2 separate regions of the Homo sapiens genome follow, and region 1 is linked to region 2. Evidence: fine-mapped expression QTL. A gene starts in region 2. The other region holds a variant in brackets. All regions are shown on one strand. Distances are between the middles of the regions. Region 1 overlaps COPZ1 (coat protein complex I subunit zeta 1). Region 2 holds the start of COPZ1 (coat protein complex I subunit zeta 1).

Region 1 (9,409 bases), 20 kb before region 2:
ATCTCCTTCCCCTCACTTGTCTTCCCTGTCCTTAGAAGAATGGAGAATAGAAAATCCCCAAGGGTAAAGAGATGGGAAGAAGCTCTCTAAGGCCCTAGCAGATTGTTTGGAAAATTCCAAAAAAATTCAAACCCACTGAGGGGATGAAGAGAGAAGAGGTATACCTGGTATAAAAGAAAAAAAAAAAGGGAGTTACTGGACATATGTTAAAAGGGGCGGCGGGCAGGGGGCGGGTAACAAATCCAGATGGACTTCTTGGTGAGAATTCCAAGTGGGTAGAAAACGGAACCCCTCCCTTCCCCCTACATCAGGTAGACAATCTATCTGCAGTCAAGGTAGCAAGATGGATCTGCAAAACCTGCATATTCTAGAATATGCATTTCCAGCTTAGCCCTCAATTGAATAATAAGAGAAAGAGAGTGTGTGTGCACAAATGCACACAGACCATCTGCTTAAGGCAAGCCTCTGCTGGGGAATAAATCACTGAATGAGGCATCAGGCAGGCAGGGAGGGTTTGAAGGGTACAGAGCAAGGCTGACAGCCACTGCTCACAGGTAACTGAGAAAGGAGTTGGAAGTAGGGGTAGGGAGTGGCTGGCTGTATGAGTCCCAGTTCTCTGGAATAAGAGGGAGCCAAGGAAGATGTGTCTTGAGTCTCTAGTTTCACTCAGATTTGAGAGGTATGGGTGGAATGCTGTTCTAGCCTCTTTAGTGACCCAGTCCATCTGGAAAGGAAGAAGGGAGAGTCATACCTGAGACACGGTCTGCTCCGTAAGGGGGACATCTTCACCCTATGGCACAGAGATACAAGCATTTAGTGTGGGAGAAAGCTGGAGTAAGACCTGATTGGAGTCTGGTATTAGAGAAGAAAAAAGTGATCCTTTAAACTGAAACAAAGGGCAGATGCACTGAACTTCTCAGTCCCTTCTAGGGACTAGTACAGCTACAATTTTACTTGGCCAGAGGGACTATGAACAAAAAAGGGTCATTTCATCCAGCTTCCATTTTAAGGCAGGAGGACTTCTTAAAAGATTTAACTCCATTCAGAGTAACCAGCAGGTTATCTGATCCTCAACTCCCTTAACGTGGGGGTGGAGGACCTGATTCCCTAGTCAGAAAAGGCCTTTTCTGAATATCAGTATCACTAGGGAAAGGATGAGGGGGAGCCAGGAGTGGTTTAATGGATCCCGCAAAGCCTGATGGGTAACGACAGCATGTTAATTTGAAGAAATAAACTGCTGCAACAGCAGCCTAAGAAGACAAAGCGGGGAGTTGATGGGGGGGACCCTCTCTCTTGCCACACAGAGACATATGTTAGAGGAGAAGATTAAACTATGCAAATGGAGCCCACAGCAGTTAAGAGAGATTTCCCATTACCAAGCACTGTCAGCCTTCACTCTGTGGAGGTCAGAGCCAGGACATTCTGTGAATGGGGAGATTTGCTTTGCTCAGACATCTTTGCACCCGTATAATTTGTTGGTGGGCTCTCTCTGCATCCACCATTATCTCCTCAGCTGACCTGGGGCCTTCTATGGTTAACTCAGAGGCCCCTTTCTGATATCACCAGCACCAAAGAGGACTGAGGTTCTGGCAAATAAGTACTTCCTAATGGAGAGGTACCATCCTCAGTTATGTAACACTTTATTATTATTATTTTATTTATTTATTTTTTTTGAGACAGAGTCTCACTCTGTCGCCCAGGCTGGAGTGCAGTGGTGCAATCTCGGCTCACTGCAACCTCCACCTCCCGGGCTCAAGCAATTCTCCTGCCTTAGCCTCCTGAGTAGCTGGGATCACAGGCACGCACCACCATGCCCAGCTAATTTTTGTGTCTTTAGTAGAGACAGGGTTTCACCATGTTGGTCAGGCTGGTCTCGAACTCCTGACCTTGTGATCCGCCAGCCTCGGCTTCCCAAAGTGCTGGGATTACAGGTGTGAGCCACCACGCTCAGTCCTATGTAACACTTTAAAAGACAAAACAGACACTCCTCTGCCTCAGATGACTGGATCCATCTCCAAGAAGGGAATAAGCCAACTTCAAGTTGCTTTATAATTTCAAAACCATAAATATTAAAGTTTATTTTATCATTTATTAAATAAGTATGTATTAAATGTCCACTTTGTGCAAAGACTGTATGAGATGTTAGGCACCATATTAGGGGTAGAAATAAGTTATTTCTGCTTCTTTCTTTGGGACAATAAGAAGAGAAGGGAAGAGAAAGGCTGAATGTATTTGAAAGAAAAAGAGAAGGTTGTATGTATCCTATGAGCCCCAACTACTGGACACATCCAGCAGGTCTGGCTCTGGAGGGTGTTTGTGAATAGATGCGGGGATGCAAAGAAACACATTCTTGCTTACCCTTAATGCCACCCGGTGTACCACCTGCTGGGGATCACTCTCTAGGATCACCCTGCAAAAACAAAGAAGAGATCATTGTTCACTCTGTCCCGAAGGCCCAACTCACTGTCGGGGAACAGGACCTCTGGCCACTGAGCCTGCTTGACTTAGGACAGGGGCAGTTATCCCGCCACCTCACCCAAGATCAAGGCAGGTCAGAGAACTTACCCTCCATCTACAATTTCATCCACAGCCAAGAACAGCCCCTCCATGTTCTCCAGCAGTGCTCGCTTTTCTACATTTTTCCTGAGTCCCCAAGAGAAGAGAAGAGAATAACCAACTTGTATGTGAAAGAAATCCTAGGACCTTGTCTCAATTGAGGAACCTAAACTAGACCAATAAACATCTCCACCAACCACACAAAGAAGTAAATAAGGTGAAGAACTTTTTAGCTAGTTCACTCAAAACCCCTTTCTACTCGTTTGCTGAATAAGGAATGTATGGAAAGAGATTCAAATAACACAGTCAATTTCTGACTATTCAGGGGTTGATTATCCACGCTATTATTTCTTTCCTACCTGCCATGATGCTGCTCATAACATTGCTCATAAACACTGACATCAGTGGGTGGAAAAAAACAATATAAACAGAGCTAAGACTCAGTCTGGAGGTGGCCGGAGGTGAGAGGGGTTCAATGCAAACCTTATTTGTACTCAAGCTCTGACAAACCTCCTGAGACATTCTCTGTTCCCTCTTCTCCCTATCCCTTACCAGCTCTGCTCAGGCCCTGAAAAGAAGCCCAAAGAGGGGGCAGGGTCTGCATACACCAGCCTCAGATCCGTTGGTTGGTGCATGTGGCCTGTCACATCTGTCAGTTTGAGTCTTTCACTAGATTACCCGAATGAATTACTATTCATTCACCTGGATAAGAAATAAATCATCCCCTTCCTGAGGAAATCTGAGCCATTCACCCTGCTGATTTTGCAGGGCTGAGAGTGCCTGCTGTTCTGGTCTGGATGGCTGTCTGTACTGGGTTCACTTGGGAGCTGCTGGGGGAATGAAGTTCAGAGCCCTGGATGTTTTCAGGAAAAGTAACTTATATCTCTTCTATTACCCATCTACACGGGTAACAGAGAACAGAGGGCTAGTGGGAAGGTGGAAAGGGAGGAGAGGGTAAATGGCAGAAGCTTCCTGTTTTTTGTTTTGTTTTGTTTTTTGAGACAGGGTCTTGCTATGTCACCTAGGCTGGAGTGCAGTAGCATGATCACAGCTCACTGCAGCCTCAACCTCCTGGGCTCAAGCAATCTTCCTACCTCAGCCTCCCAAGTAGCTGAGACTACAGGTATGCACCACCACACCTGGCTAATTTTTTTATTTTTTGCAGAGACAGGGTCTCACTGTGTTGCCCAAGCTTGTCTTGAACTCGACTCATGCAGTCCTCCTGCCTGGGTGCTTCCTGTTCTACAGAAGGGAAAAAACAAGGACTAGAAGTCAAAAAAAAACTGGTCTAAGTGGCTCATGCCTATAATCCCAGCACTTTGGGAGGCCAAGGTAGGTGGATCATTTGAGGTCAGGAGTTCAAGACCAGCCTGGCCAACATGGTAAAACCCTGTCTCCACTAAAAATACAAAAATTAGCCAGG[C/T]GTGGTGGCACGTGCCTATAATTGCAGCTACTCTACTCGGGAGGCTGAGGCAGGAGAATCGCTTGAACCTGGGAGGCAGAGGTTGCAGTGAGCCGAGATCACGCCACTGCACTCCAGCCTGGGTGACAGAGTGAGACTCCATCTCAAAAAAAAAAAAAAAGAAAAAAAAATTGGGAGTGTTGCTTCCATTCCTGAAGTACTGAATGACATTTCATCTGGGACACTTCCTTATGCTTGGCCTTTCCCTACTTCTAATGTCAAGAATGAAGCCCAGGAAAGCACCTTGAGGATGCTCAGATCTGACAGGACCACAGGGGATTACAAGAGTAAACACAGAGGTAAAGATTCGGCTCCCTCCCAGTCCCCTTACTTAGTAAGAGAATTATTCTATGGGAGGGACATACTCTCCATCCAGTCCTCCCCAGTAGCATGAATTACTGTGAATTAATAAACCCAACTTTTTTTTTTTTTTTTGAGACAGAGTCTCACTCTGTCGCCAAGGCTGGAGTGCAGTGGCGCGATCTCGGCTCACTGCAAGCTCCGCCTCCCAGGTTCATGCCATTCGCCTGCCTCAGCCTCCCAAGCACCTGGGACTACAGGCGCCCGCTACCATGCCCGGCTAATTTTTTGTATTTTTAGTGGAGACAGGGTTTCCCCATGTTAACCAGGATGGTCTCAATCTCCTGACCTCATGATCCGCCCGCCTTGGCCTCCCAAAGTACTGGGATTACGAACGTGAGCCACTGAGCCCGGCAAAACCCAACTTCTAAAACTAAATCAACTCCCTGGAGCCTTTGCCAATCCCCTACAATCCCTGGGCCTGAAGAATGGTTACTTTATCTCCCAAAAAGAAATCAACAATGCCCTGCTCTTTCCATCATAACTTGAGGGGAAAAAAAAGAATGTCCTGCTCACCTCAGCATCTGGCTCAATGAGTCGAAGAGACAGTTCAGAACAGCCATAAGCATCAGCTGTTGGGAAACAGAGGAGGCAGAAGGATAAGGTTCAAGGCCCTGAAAGCTGCTACCTAAAAACAAAACCTCCTAATTCATTAAACATCAAAAGACACAGGCTTTCACAAAGGACCAAAAACATAAAGTGGAAGTGAGAGCACAACAGGAAAAGGATCTGTGATTTCTCACAGAAATAAATTCTGCTACATGATTCCACAATTCAACATCTTTTAGCCAAAAGTTTAAACAGAACTTCCCTGTCACAGTCCTCTACAATGTCTTCACCAACTGTATATGTGTTACCTGATGTCTTAGGTAGAGAAATTACTAACCAAGCAATAGCTGAGGTCAGAGGAAGGCTTCAGAGTTAGTGTAAAAAGCATGGACTTTAATTGGCTGGGCACAGTGGGTCACACCTGTAACGTCTAGACCCTGTCTAGACTCTGACTCTATCCCAGCACTTTCGGAGGCTGCAGCAGGCCGATTGCTTGAGCTCAGGAGTTGAGACCAGCCTGGGCAACATGGCAAAACCCTGTCTACAAACAATACAAAAAAAAATTAGCCAGGCATGGTGGTGGGCACCTGCAGTCCCAGCTACTTGGGAGGCTAAGGTGGTAGAATCACTTGAGCCTGGGAGCCAGAGGTTGCAGTGAGCCAAGATCGCACCACTGCAGTCCAGCCTGGGAGACAGAACAAGACCCTGTCTCAAATTTTTTTTTTTTTTTTGAGAGTCTGGCTCTGTCACCCAGGCTGGAGTGCAATGGCGCAATCTCAGCTCACTGCAACCTCCACCTCCCAGGTTCAAGCAATTCTCTTGCCTCAGCCTCCCAAGTAGCTGGGATTACAGGCGCCCACCACCACGCCCAGCTAATTTTTGTTGTTGTTGTTGTTTGTTTGTTTGAGACGGAGTCTCGCTCTGTTGCCCAGGCTGGAATGCAGTGGTATGATCTCGGCTCACTGCAACCTCCGCCTCCCAGGTTCATGCCATTCTCCTGCCTCAACCTCCCGAGTAGCTGGGACTACAGGTGCCCGCACCACGCCCAGCTAATTTTTTGCATTTTTAGTAGACATGGGGTTTCACTGTGTTAGCCAGGATGGTCTCAATCTCCTGACTTCGTGATCCGCCTGCCTCGGCCTCCCAAAGTGCTGGGATTACAGGTGTGAGCCACCATGCCTGGCCTGTATTTTTAGTAGAGATGGGATTTCGCCATGTTGGCCAGCCTGGTCGCGAACTCCTGACCTCAAGTGATCCGCCCACCTTGGCCTCCCAAAGTGCTGGGATTACAGGTGTGAGCCACCACGTTCGGCCTATGTCTCAAAATTTTTTAAAAAGCATGGACTTTAAGTCAGACAGATATGGGTTGGAATCCAAGCTGAGCCATTTTCTACATGTGTGACCCTGAGAAAGTTACTAGGTTGAACCACATCAGATAACTGCCACTTTTGTACTTTTCTCAATGGTCACATACAAGTAATTTCATATAGTTCTTCATGGTTTGGTTTCCTCATTTGTAAAACAAAGGCACCAATGCCTACAACTCATAGAAGTGCTATGAGGTTTAAATAACAATATACTTTACAAAGCACTTATACCAATAATAAGAGCTCAGTAAGAGTTGACTTTCTCAAACTTTCACTTTTGCCTCAAATTATCTGGGGGCTTATTTTTATTTATCTATTCTCCTAGAAGTTGCTATCTGAGGCAAACAGCTTTTCCTGCATATAGGAAGCAGGTTAGGACTATACCCAAGGTCTTCTCCAGTGATCCATTCAGAATGTATGGTTTCAACATGACCCAGGTTGTTAGCTAATTGGCTCAAACTCAGTCAGGTATGGACCCTTCATAGAAGAAGCAAGTATCCCCCTGCAGTCTTGACCATACCTCAGAAATCCATCTTAAAAAACACTACTCAGGGAAAGGTATTAAAACATATATGATGTTTCCTAATGGATGCAAAAGATTAATCTAGGAAAACTTCCTTTCTAGGCGATTCATTTGCCGGGCCATGTTTGTGAGGCTGGTGGGATCTCTGACAACTTCATTAGCTTGGTCAGAAGCCAGAGGAACACGGCTCTATTAGGGCCCCAAACCAGTGGCTATGTACTGCCTGTGGTTTAGAAAGTAGGATCAGAAATAGCAAAGAGGGGTGGGGATTCTCACCTCATTTTCATAGGAGCTGCCAATCACATAGAAATAGAGATCTATACTGCTTTTGTATACCACTGTCAGGCCTTCCAAGAGGGCAATTTCACCTGGTGGGGGAAAAAAAGTAAAAATAGTGGGTGGCTTGAGATAAGGAAGTAGGAAAGAAGGAGTTACCAGCCAGGCGCAGTGGCTCATGCCTGTAATCCCAGCACCTTGGGAAGCCGAGCCTGGCGGATCACCTAAGGTCAGGAGTTCAAGACCAGCCTGGCCAACACAGTGAAACCCCGTCTCTACTAAAAATACAAAAATTAGCCGGGCGTGGTGGTGTGCACCTGTAATCCCTGCTACTCAGGAGGGTGAGATGGGAGAACCACTTGAACCTGGGAGGCGGAGGTTGCAGGGAGCCGAGATCTCGCCACTGTACTCCAGCCTGGGTGACAGAGAGAGACTCTGTCTCAAAAAAAAAAAAAAAAAAAAAGAAGGCGTTACCATGAATTCCTAGTATCCAGCTCTTTTGGGCTAAGGTGAGGCCGCCTGTAATGACTTCCAAAGCCAGAAGATGATCTGCACTTTTTGGGTGGTGGCAGGAGAAGAGAAGTATGAACTTGGGGGAGTCTAAATGTATCTTCTGTAACCACCATCCTCTGTTCCTGCCCACTATACCTATTTCCCTACTTGTATATGAGACAGGATACTAGTCGATCCTTCGGAGGTGAAAATGCAGAGCGGTCACCTTTACAGACTTCCATTTACCTGCCCTAATGGATGCGGTACAATAAGCAGAGCTGCAATTAAATTTGTCAAGTGAGGCTCATAAATCCAGGGACTAGACAGGTAGCTAACAGCCAACCTTCCAGCATGGTATTCCCGCGTGAGGTACACTCACCTCCCCATTACATTCTGAAGAGTTTATTATACAAGGGGAAGAAGGAAAAAAAAAGAAAAAGGCAGAGTCATTTCATCCTTTCTCTGCAGCCCTGTTACCACCCCCTTTCCACCATGGTTCCCCCCAGCACGGGTAGTAGTGAAAGGAAAATGACCTACTGTCAGTCCGATGGGTCTTGTTGAAAATGTTCTTCTCAAAGGCCTTTTGCTCCTTGACACTGGGGTAGGTGTCGTCATAGTACTGGTCAGAGGGAAAGAAGACAGGGTTGGGTCACTAGAGCTGGAAGCCAGAATGATTAGTGACTATGTTTTGCCCTGGGATCTTGGATTTCTCTCCTTCAAGGCATGGGGCAAGGGAGAAATACTGACATGGAAAAGGAAGGATTGTAGAGGCAGAGAATGGGCAGTGAGTAATCCAAGAAAAATAAATAAAAGACCCTGCCATAAGCAACCCCACCTCACATTTCCAAGACTGTCTGAAGGCAGAAGCCTACCAGCCCTACAGTGAGGCTCTGCAGCTGTCTGCAATCTAGACCTCTCCTAAAACCATTCTCATCAAGTGTTTCCTAGGAGCTACCCCATGTCAGGAAGCAGTGCCAGAGAACACAAAAAACACTAGAAGCACAGAACACTTCCATAGACCCTCACTCACTGTATGAAGCTGAGGAATGGGGAAAGGCTACAAAAACCTCCTCCAAAGAAAGGCAAACCCTGCCCTATGATCTATCTTAGCTTTCTTTTCTGCAAGCTGAAAGAAGCATCCAGCATACCACTGAGCCCATTCCCAGGCTCTCCCTGGCAAAGGGGGCGGAGATGCAGGCTGCTAAATCGCTAGCTCTTTAGGGGCTAATCCGTCGCAGTCAGCTGAAGACCCATGACAGGTCTGGCATTTAGTAACTGGATAACTGTTTCAAAAGGTGTCCTGCATAGTTACATCCAATTACAGGGAGGAACAGCTGGTGAATTCTAAACTAATCTCTACCTGCTGATTGATTTATGCTACGCTCGCCCGGAGTTAATACACCAGGGACAGAAGAAATTTCTACAGGAGGGGGAGAATATGGAGGGAGAGAGGGTGTCCTTTCTTCTTTCTTCCAACAGATCTAAAGTTGGAAACATCACTCTGGGAAAGTCAGGAGGTAACAAGCTTGATGGTGACTATAAACCTAGGAATGGAAACCTGGAACTGCAAGACAATTCTCTGGAAAAACCCAGGCAGGGTGACATGGTATGAGGGAAGGGGACAGGAATGATGGACATGGGCGGACTGCCTCTTAGCATCTACATACTGCTTTGTTAGGAACCAAAGTTTCAAAGCTTTTCCCTGATCTGATGCTGACAACAAAGGAGGTCAAAGTCTGAGGACAGCAAGCAGGGCAGCAGTACAACTAAGGGACAAAAGAAAACAGGTTTTATCTGGAGTAGGCAAGATAAGATGGAAGAATT
Region 2 (9,569 bases):
AGAAACAGCAGCAAGTATCTAGATAAAAAAGACCCTAAACCTGCCACTAGGCTCCGTCAAATACCTGGATAATTGCACTCATCCTCTGCCTCCCAAGGCAGACCTGGCTTCTCAAGGGTCTGGTTTTCCTCACATGGAGGCCCCCTCCTCCTCTTCTGACCATGTGACAGCTCCCCTAGATCTTTGATATAATTTATACCTTGCCAGGGACCAACTCTTTCCCACCACTGTGAAGAAGAGGGAAAAAATATATATAAATACGTCGGAAATCTATAACAAGGTCTTCTTGGAGGGCAAGACATGGGGAGAGTTAGAAGCAGCGTCAATTGCTCTTTGGGGGTTTTAGTTCAAGCCGAGGTCTGCTTCCAGCAATCAACCATTAAAACAAGCTGGCCAGAGTAACAGCACAGTTTATTCTGATCATTTAATTTGAAGTGTCAATAAATTAAACTTCAATCAATTAAACTAGGTGTGCAATAACCCAGATGGACACCCCGACACCAACATAATCACAATAAAAATTTTTATTGCTGCCAGGGACCTCACCGGGGGCAGTGCTGGCACTGCTCGCGCCCTAGCTGAGAAATATATCTCCACAGCGCAGGAATGAGGAGATTGCTTCTCCTAACAAAATGGAGGGGGCCAGGCACCAGCAAGGACGCAGCTGGGAGAGGGGCACAGGGGACTGCCAGGAACGAGATGGGAGTGCTTTAGGGGCTTAATGTAATTGATACCTTTGCCCAGAGCAGGGGGAGGGGGGCATTTAGGCCAAGTACCTCTACTGTTAGGGCCAAAGGAATTTAACAAAAGCCCCATTAAGATGATTCAGGAAGCAAAGGCCAAGGAGCAACATCAACCTTTAAAGTCATTGACATATTCTGCATAGTTTCCTCCTCCATACATACTCATATCCTTGTGCACTTTGGATGGCCTGATTTTTTAATGAGGCTTAGAATTTAGGATTTGGTTATGGTTTTAAAATATTAAGGTAAGACAAAGTACAGAATTAGAAGTCTAGTCTGTAAAGCACTGGAGAAGCACTCTGAAAGTGAATCCAGAGAGGATTAGGAAAAATAAAACCTATGAACAAAGATTTAAAGATCTAAACCGATACAGAATTCAGTTTTGTTTGTTTTTTAAGACAGAGTTTCACTTTTTGCCCAGGCTGGAGTGCAATGGCCCTCGGCTCACTGCAACCTCCGCCTCCCAGGTTCAAGCGATTCTCCTGCCTCAGTCTCCCGTGTAGCTGGGGATTACAAGCGCATGCCACCACGCCCAGCTAATTTTTGTATTTTTAGCAGAGACGGGTTTCACCATGTTGGTCAGGCTGGTCTTGAACTCCTGACCTCAGGTGATCCACTCACCTCAGGATTACAGGTGTGAGCCACCGAGCCCGGCCCGAGTAATTCAGCTTTAAAGAAAAAAAGTAAAGCAGGAAGGAGGAAGGGGAAATCCTTATCTTTAAGATTCCACAGGTTATTAATGGAGAATGGTGATCTGCAGAGATCCTCTTCATTCACAACTCAAAAAGCGAGAACCAGCAGATACAGCAAGAGAGAAGAAGCCAAGTCCAAAGATGCAGGCTGAGATCACTATTATTAAGCATTGGGAACTAAAAGAGATGAAAGGGTCTCTTTCCTTAGAGCCTAAGGAGACCTGAGAGAGATTAGACAAATCTGCTTGAAAGCTAGAGCTGGATTACTTAATTCAAGAAAGAAATGTGACCATGTGACCCACTGTAAAGTACCTAAAAGAAGGGAACTTACTGTTATTTAGAAATTCCACAATCAATGCAAACTTTGATCAACAGTTCTTCTTGACCCCCTGTAGCTTACCTGTCCCTTTTTCTCGACATCCTGCAGCTATGTATGTACCTTGTAGAGTTAAGGACAGAAGAATATGCTTTGATCAGATTGTCCCTAACCGCATTACATAGGTTTCCCATAACAAAGAACCAGTGTGGTTTTAAAAGCAAAGTCCAGGGTTACCTGATCAAGTTAGCAGGGATCTGTGAATGCAGCCTATTAGGCATAGATTAAAGCAAAAGAATAAGGAAGAAGCAGGCTGAAACAGACTTCACTGAAGAAGCAGAGACAGAGAACTAAGGGAAGAGAAATGTGACAGAGAGACTTTCTTTTTCTTTAACTTTTCTGAGACAGAGCCTTGCTCTGTCACCCAGGCTGGAGTGCAGTGGCGCATCTCGGCTCACCGCGACCTCTGCCTCCCAGGTTCAAGTGATTCTCTTGCCTCAGCTTCCTGAGTAGCTGGGATTACAGGCGTGGCCACGCCCAGCTAAGTTTTGTATTTTTAGCAGAGACCGGGTTTCACCATGTTGGTCAGGCTGGTCTCCAACTCCTGACCTCGTGATCCGCCCACCTCGGCCTCCCAAAGTGCTGGATTTACAGGCGTGAGCCACCGTGCCCGGCCTTTTTTTTTTTTTTGAGATGGAGTCTAACACTGTCGCCTGGGCTGGAGTGCAGTGGCGCGATCTCGGCTCACTGCAACCTCTGCCTCCCTGGCTCAAGTGATTCTCCTGCCTCAGCCTCCTGAGTAGTTGGGACTATAGGCTCGTGCCACCACGCCCAGCTATTTTTTTTTGTATTTTTAGTAGAGACATGGTTTCACCATGTTGGCCAGGCTGGTTTCGAACTCCTGACCTCAAGTGATCCGCCCACCTCAGCCTCCCAAAGTGCTAGGATTACAGGCATGAGCCACTGCACTGCGCCCGACAGAGATACTTTCACATATAACTCCCCCAGCTTACCCACTACACACAGGCCCATTGTTAAAAGGGCTCCCCAATTATTATCTTCCTCATTCCTTTACCTTTAAGCAGGCTCCCTTCTAAACATATATAGGTAAGTCTAAAAACTTCCAAAAAAACCAATTCCCTAGAATCTATCCTAGTCTGCTAATTGGGTTTAGGGGGAGGTTTTTTATTCTTATTTTTTTAGAGACAGGGTCTGGCTTTGTCACCCATGCTGGAGTGCAGTGGCACAATCATAGCTCACTGCAGCCTCAAACTCCCAGGCTCAAGCGATCCTCCTGCCTCAGCCTCTTACAGTGCTGGGATTACAGGCATGAGCCACTGCACTCAACCTCTTGATTAAGAATACTTGCTGCCGGGCACGGTGGCTCACTCCTATAATCCTAGCACTTTGGGAGGCTGAGGCAGGTGGATTGCCTGAGCTCAAGAGTTCAAGACCAGCCTGGGCAACACAGTGAAACCGTCTCTACTAAAATACAAAAAAGTTAGCCAGGTGTGGCAGCACGTGCCTGTAGTCCCAGCTACTCGTGAGGCTGAGGCAGGAGAAATTGCTTCAACCCAGGAGGCAGAGGTTGCAGTGAGGTGAGATCACACCACTGCACTCCAGCCTGGGTGACACAGCGAGACTCTGTTTCCAAAAAAAAAAAAAAAAACTTGCTAACTGGCCGGGGTGCAGTGACTCACACCTGTAATCCCAGCACTTTGGGAGGCCAAGGCAGGCAGATCACTTGAGGTCAGGAGTTCAAGACTAGACCAGCCTGGCAAACATGGAGAAACCCTGTTTCTACTAAAAATACAAAAATTAGCTGGGCATGGTGGCGCGTGCCTGTAACCCCAGCTACTCAGGAAGCTGAGGCATGAGAATTGCTTGATTCTGGGAGGCGGAGGTTGCAGTGAGCCAAGATTGCACCACTGCACCCCAGCCTGGGCAACACAGCCAGACTCTATCTCAAAAAAAAAAAAAAAAAAAAAAAAAAAAAAAAAAAAAGAATACTTGTTAACTGCTTGGTACAGAAAATATTTAAAACTACTCAGATTTTAAGCTTTTTACCTATATTTGACCAACCGACATAAGGAATTAACTGTCTTTAACTGAAAGAGAGGAATTAAAACCTGTTATTCTTTTATCTGATGAGGATCTGAATGTGTATGCTTAGGAGATCTGAAGGAAAATAAAAGACAAGCTTCTTTGGAAAGAGGCCTAGAGTTCAAGCCAATTAAGGAAGAAGGCTGGGAGTTAAATTCCTACACTATACTACCTACCTACCTACACACACACACACACACACACACACACACACACACACACCCCTCCAAATCGCAAAATAGGGCACTTTTGAGAGAAATTCTCTGGTCCAGTTCTAAAAAGGGGTAACAGGTATTTTATTTGTTAGAACAAGCATAAAGCATCATATGGACAAGAGGGCTAATACAGCCCTTTAGCGACCACAATTCTCATGTAACCAGAGAGGGAGAAATTAGCATCCTAGATCATACAATAAGAATTCCTGGCCCGGCGCAGTGGCTCACGCCTGTAATCCCAGCACTTTGGGAGGCCGAGGCGGGTGGATTACGAGGTCAGGAGATCGAGACCATCCTGGCTAACACGGTGAAACTCCGTCTCTACTAAAAAATACAAAAAATTAGCCGGGAGTGGTGGCGAGCGCCTGTAGTCCCAGCCACTCCGGAGGCTGAGGCAGAAGAATGGCGTGAACCCGGGAGGCGGAGCTTGCAGTGAGCCGAGATCGTACCACTGCACTCCAGCCTGGGCGACAGAGTGAGACTCCGTCTCAAAAATAATAATAATAATAATAATAATAATAATTCCTGGCCAGGCGCGGTGGTTCAAGCCTGTAATCCTAGCACTTTGGGAGGCCGAGGCGGGCGGATCACTTGAGGTCAGGAGTTCGAAACCAGCCTGGCCAACATGGTGAAACCACGTCTCTACTAAAAATACAAAAAAAATAGCCGGGCGTGGTGGCACGCGCCTATAGTCCCAACTACGCGGGAGGCTGAGGCAAGAGAATAGCTTGAACCCGGGAGGTGGAGATTGCAGTGAGCCAAGATCGCGCCACGTGCGCACTCCAGCCTGGGTGACAGAGCAAGGCTCGGTCTCAAAAAAAAAAAAAAAAAAAAAGAATTCCTAAGGTCTAAATGGGTAGAGAAAAGGAGAACAGAATAAGGAGTCTAGAAAAAATATTCCACAATCCATGCTAACTTTATCAGGTATCCCAGAACTTTGATGGAATACTGATTATTTGACAAACCTATATAATAGGGATTAACAGGAAACCGAAGACAAAACAGTTTCCTGAAGGAATGTGGCAGGGAATCGGCAATGGAGAGTCAAACTTGGGAAACCATCAGGAGGAGTCTGTAACGACAAAACATCTGTATTCTTTTCTTACAATATGGGGCGAGTTTGGTGGTTTGGTAAATTAAAATCAGGGTATCATCCACAATGCTAAAAATAAGGGGCAACCTGAAGGGTCCTAATCCAGTACGCCTACAGGTCTGTGTATCCTAAGGAGTCCATGTGCTGCCTTCAACTTTCCACCGACTCTATGCCCTCTCCCCGGCAGGGCTTCCTACTCTAAACCAAGGCTTTAGCTCCTACACTAGGCCACACACTTATTCCAAAGGTCAGCAGAACGCTCAGTCCCCAAGAATTACCCGGAACTCTCTTTCCCCGTCTCCCACTCGGGCTGAACCCTGACTCCCGGCCCCTGTGGACACCACAGCATCTCTGCTGCCCCTCCAGCTCCTACCAAAATCAGCGCCTCCATCTTGCCCCGCAGCTGGTGCCGACGTGGAGCCGCAAAAGAAACGCCGCCGCTGATTGGCCATACGTTCCCATTAGGCCCCGCCTAGGATAAGGATCATTGGGTAAGGCTTGCTTTATTGGCCAATTATTGTACTAGCTTGCTTACCGGAAGCAAAGTGTCCAACCAGAAGGCTCAGGTGTTTGATTGTCAGCTTGAATACTCAATAAAACGCCAAAACCTCACGACTCATTGGGGCGGGAGGGTTAGTGGGGCGGGGTTGTTTCCATGGGGAACAGAAGAAGCGATTGTTAATTTTCAATTGGTAGGGCCGAGGACACGTGATATTGTCGGACTGATTTAGCGATTTTTAAACCGCACCCTCTTTAGGGGGCGCTGTGTCTCCTTAGCCTTTAACACTGGCGCTTTCTAACCGGAATCCTGCCCTAATCCCTATTTTCAGCGCCCGCATTAGGTCCATGATCTCTGTGGCTAGCCCTTCCCTCATGCTCGCTCAGGTCACTTCAGCATCCTCACAGAAAGTCTGCACAACCATAGAGTAGAGCCAAGAAAGGCCCAACATGTTAACTACATAAACCAAGGCTGCCAGGAGTTGATAGTCGCAATAACAATCTCCCTAAGGTGGAGTTCCAGGCTTTGCTGGGCCTGAGGAACATGAGAAGTCAGTTTGTAAAGGCCAACTTGAGCTCAACGTGAAATCGGCTTTGGAGATGGGGTTTGCGGGACAAACGGGGAAAGGGATGGGATTAGAATAAGAGAGGGGTTATAGGGAGTAAATTCTGGGGTTTTCCAATAGAAACAAGCCGTTGTGCCTGGGCGCGGTGGCTCAAGCCTGTAATCCCAGCACTTTGGGAGGCCGAGGCGAGCGGATCATCTGAGGTCGGGAGTTTGAAACCAACCTGACCAACATGGAGAAACCCCGTCTCTACTAAAAAAAAAAAATACAGGCCGAGCGTGATGGCTCACACCTGTAATCCCAGTACTTTGGGAGGCCGAGGCGGGCGGATCACGAGATCAGGAGATCAAGACCATCCTGACTAACATAGTGAAACCCCGTCTCTACTAAAAATACAAAAAATTAGCCGGGCGTGGGTGGCGGGCGCCTGTAGTCCCTGCTACTCTGGAGGCTGAGGCAGGACAATGGCGTGAACCCAGGAGGCGGAGTTTGCAGTGAGCTGAGATCGCGCCACTGCACTCCAACCTGGGTGACAGAGCGAGACTCCGTCTCAAAAAATATACATATATACAAAATTAGCCGGGCGTGGTGGAACATGCCTGTAATCCCAGCTACTCGGGAGGCTGAACCAGGAGACTCACTTGAACCTGGGAGGCGGAGGTTGAGGTGAGGCGAGATCTCGTCATTGCACTCCAGCCTGGGCAACAAGAGCGAAATTCCATCTCAAAAAAAAAAGAAAAGAAAAGAAAAGGAGAAGAGAAGAGAAAAGAAAAGGAGAAAGAAAGAAAAGAAAGAAAGAAAGGAAGGAAGGAAGGAAGGAAGGAAAGAAAGAAAGAAAGAAAGAAAGAAAGAAAGAAAGAAAGAAAGAGAAGGAAAGAAAGGAGAGGAAAGAAATGAGGCGTTGCAAAATGAGAAAAGAGAAGTTTACTGAATGCAAGAATTTCACAATAGGGAATGATTTTGATGAAGCTTGGCTTTCCCCTATCCCTTGGTTTCCTGATCCCTGACTCCTCTTAGGGCAGGGACACCTATTACCTTAATTATCCTAAAGGGATTTTTTCCCTCATCTCTGAAAATTATATCCTTAGGAGCCCTCCAAGAAGAGATTCCAAACTTACCCAGGAATTTTTCTTTTTTGAGACGGAGTCTCGCTCTGTCCCCCAGGCTGGAGTGCAGTGGCTCAATCTCGGCTCACTGCAAGCTCCGCCTCCCGGGTTCACGCCATTCTCCTGCCTCAGCCTCCAGAGTAGCTGGGACCACAGGCGCCCACCACCACGCCTGGCTGATTTTTTGTATTTTTAGTAGAGACGGGGTTTCACCGTGTTAGCCAGGATGGTCTCCATCTCCTGACCTCGTGATCCGCCCGCCTCGGCCTCCCAGAGTGCTGGGATTACAGGCGTGAGCCACTGCTGCACCCGGCCTTTTTTTTTTTTTTTTTTTTTTTAAGACGGAGTCTCTCTCTGTCGCCAGGCTGGAGTGCAGTGGTGTGATTTTGGCTCACTGTAACCTCCGCCTCCCGGTTGCAAGCGATTCTCCCTGCCACCTCAGCCTCCCTTGTAGCTGGGATTACAGGCGCCTGCCACCCCTGGCTAATTTTTGTACTTTTAGTAGAGACGGGGTTTCGCCATACTGGCCAGGCTGGTCTCGAACTCCGGACCTCAGATGATCCACCCGCCTTGGCCTCCCAAAGTGCTGGGATTACAGGCGTGAGCCACCGGGCCCAGCCACCCAGGAATTTTTCTAATAGTCGGAGTAGAATCAAGGAAACATAAAACAATACAATACAAGGGCGCTGTGGCATGTGCCTGTAGTACCAATTACCCCAGGGGCTGAGGCAGGAGGATGCTTGAGCCCAAGAGTTCGAGGCCGTAGTGCGCAGTGATTGTGCCTGGGAATAGCCACTGCATTCCAGCCTCGACAACACAGGGAGACCCAGTCTGTATATAAAAATAAGATAAAATAAAAAATTGAACAATACAATGCAAATTATAGACCTACAGTGTACTCTGACAGAAGGTGAATTTCTGGTGGAATACCAGGTGTTAAGCCTTATATCTGGAAGAAGTGAAGGCTTGTCCTTTTATTCCTCAAGGAGAGTTGTTCACACATTTACTGTGCCTGGCATCACAGTCAGTGGGTTGTCATTGGCTTTGCAGCTTAAAGGTAATACTAACATTTACTGCCCACTTATTATGTGCCAGGCACGGTGCTAAATCTTTAAATACATTATTGAATACATTTTTTAAAATCCTTATGAAGTAGCTGGGCATGGTGGCTCATGCCTGTAATCCCAAAACTTTGGGAGGCTGAGGCAGGCAGATCACCTGAGGCCGGGAGTTCGAGACCAGACTAGCCAACATGGTGAAACCCCGTCTCTACTAAAAATACAAAGATTAGCTAGGTGTGGTGGCAGGTGCCTGTAATCCCAACTACTCCGGAGGCTAAGGCAGGAGAATCTCTTGAACCCGGGAGGTGGAGGTTGCAATGAGCGAGATCCTGCCATTGCACTCCAGCATGGGCAACAAGAGCAAAACTCTGTCTCAAAAAAAAAAAAAAAAAAAATTCCTGGCCGGGTGCGGTGGCTCACACCTGCAATCTCAGCACTTTGGGAGACCGAGGCGGGTGGATCACGAGGTCAGGAGTTTAAGACCAGCCTGGCCAAGATGGTGAAACCCCGTCTCTACTAAAAATACAAAAAATTAGCCGGGCGCGGTGGCAGGCACCTGAAATCCCAGCTACTTGGTAGGCTGAGGCAGGAGAATCGCTTGAACTCAGAGGGCAGAGGTTGCAGTAGCCGACATTGCATGCTACACTCCAGCCTGGGTGACAGAGTGAGACTCCGTCTCAAAAAAAACAAATAAAATAAAAAATCCTTACGAAGTAGATGATTATTAAACCCATTTTACAGATGAGCAACATGGAGTTTAGAGCAGTTAAATAATTTACTTAAGGCTACAGAACTGTTTTAGCAGCCATACGTTTGAGCACAGGAGACTCTAAACCATGTTCTTACCCACAGTCCACTCCTCTAGTTTGTTGTACTGCCTCTCTTGCATCCCAGTCCTACCTCAAGGACTCTACCTCAGTGCCAGATATTCTACAAGGACCATAAGGAGGAAAAAGTGTGGTATGGTTGGTTCATGGGGATGGTTGGCTCCTTTTTCTGTGTAGTAACTGACAAATTTTAAGTCAGATATTGTTGCAGAAGATCGCTTGATTCTTAGCTCTCCAGCCTGTTGGGGTAATTGTGCTGTGGGAGGAAGACAATTGACTGAATTAGAGACATTAGTTATTGTTGTGACTTTGCTTTAATCAGTGAGAGAACTCTGCAAGTCTCTGTACC

The links. PIP is the estimated chance that this variant, and not a neighbour inherited with it, causes the effect. A credible set is the group of variants that fine-mapping cannot tell apart.
Region 1: its variant is the best candidate, but not a certain one, in a credible set for the expression of COPZ1 in whole blood (TOPMed, PIP 0.52).

The regions. Positions count from the first base shown.
Region 1 is chr12:54,341,001-54,350,409 of GRCh38, reverse strand. It overlaps COPZ1 (coat protein complex I subunit zeta 1), which reads right to left. Exons shown (of 9, transcript NM_016057.3): 3 at 8,123-8,204; 4 at 7,094-7,185; 5 at 4,895-4,950; 6 at 2,566-2,643; 7 at 2,359-2,410; 8 at 752-790. It also overlaps the pseudogene RN7SL744P. Among named protein-coding and RNA genes, the nearest start is that of GPR84-AS1, 8.0 kb to the left of the region's middle. The variant C/T (reference allele first, on the strand shown) is at 3,980.
Region 2 is chr12:54,321,148-54,330,716 of GRCh38, reverse strand. COPZ1 (coat protein complex I subunit zeta 1) reads right to left here and starts at 5,586. Exons shown (of 9, transcript NM_016057.3): 1 at 5,536-5,586. The coding sequence starts at 5,553. RefSeq lists enhancers at 146-835, 836-1,526.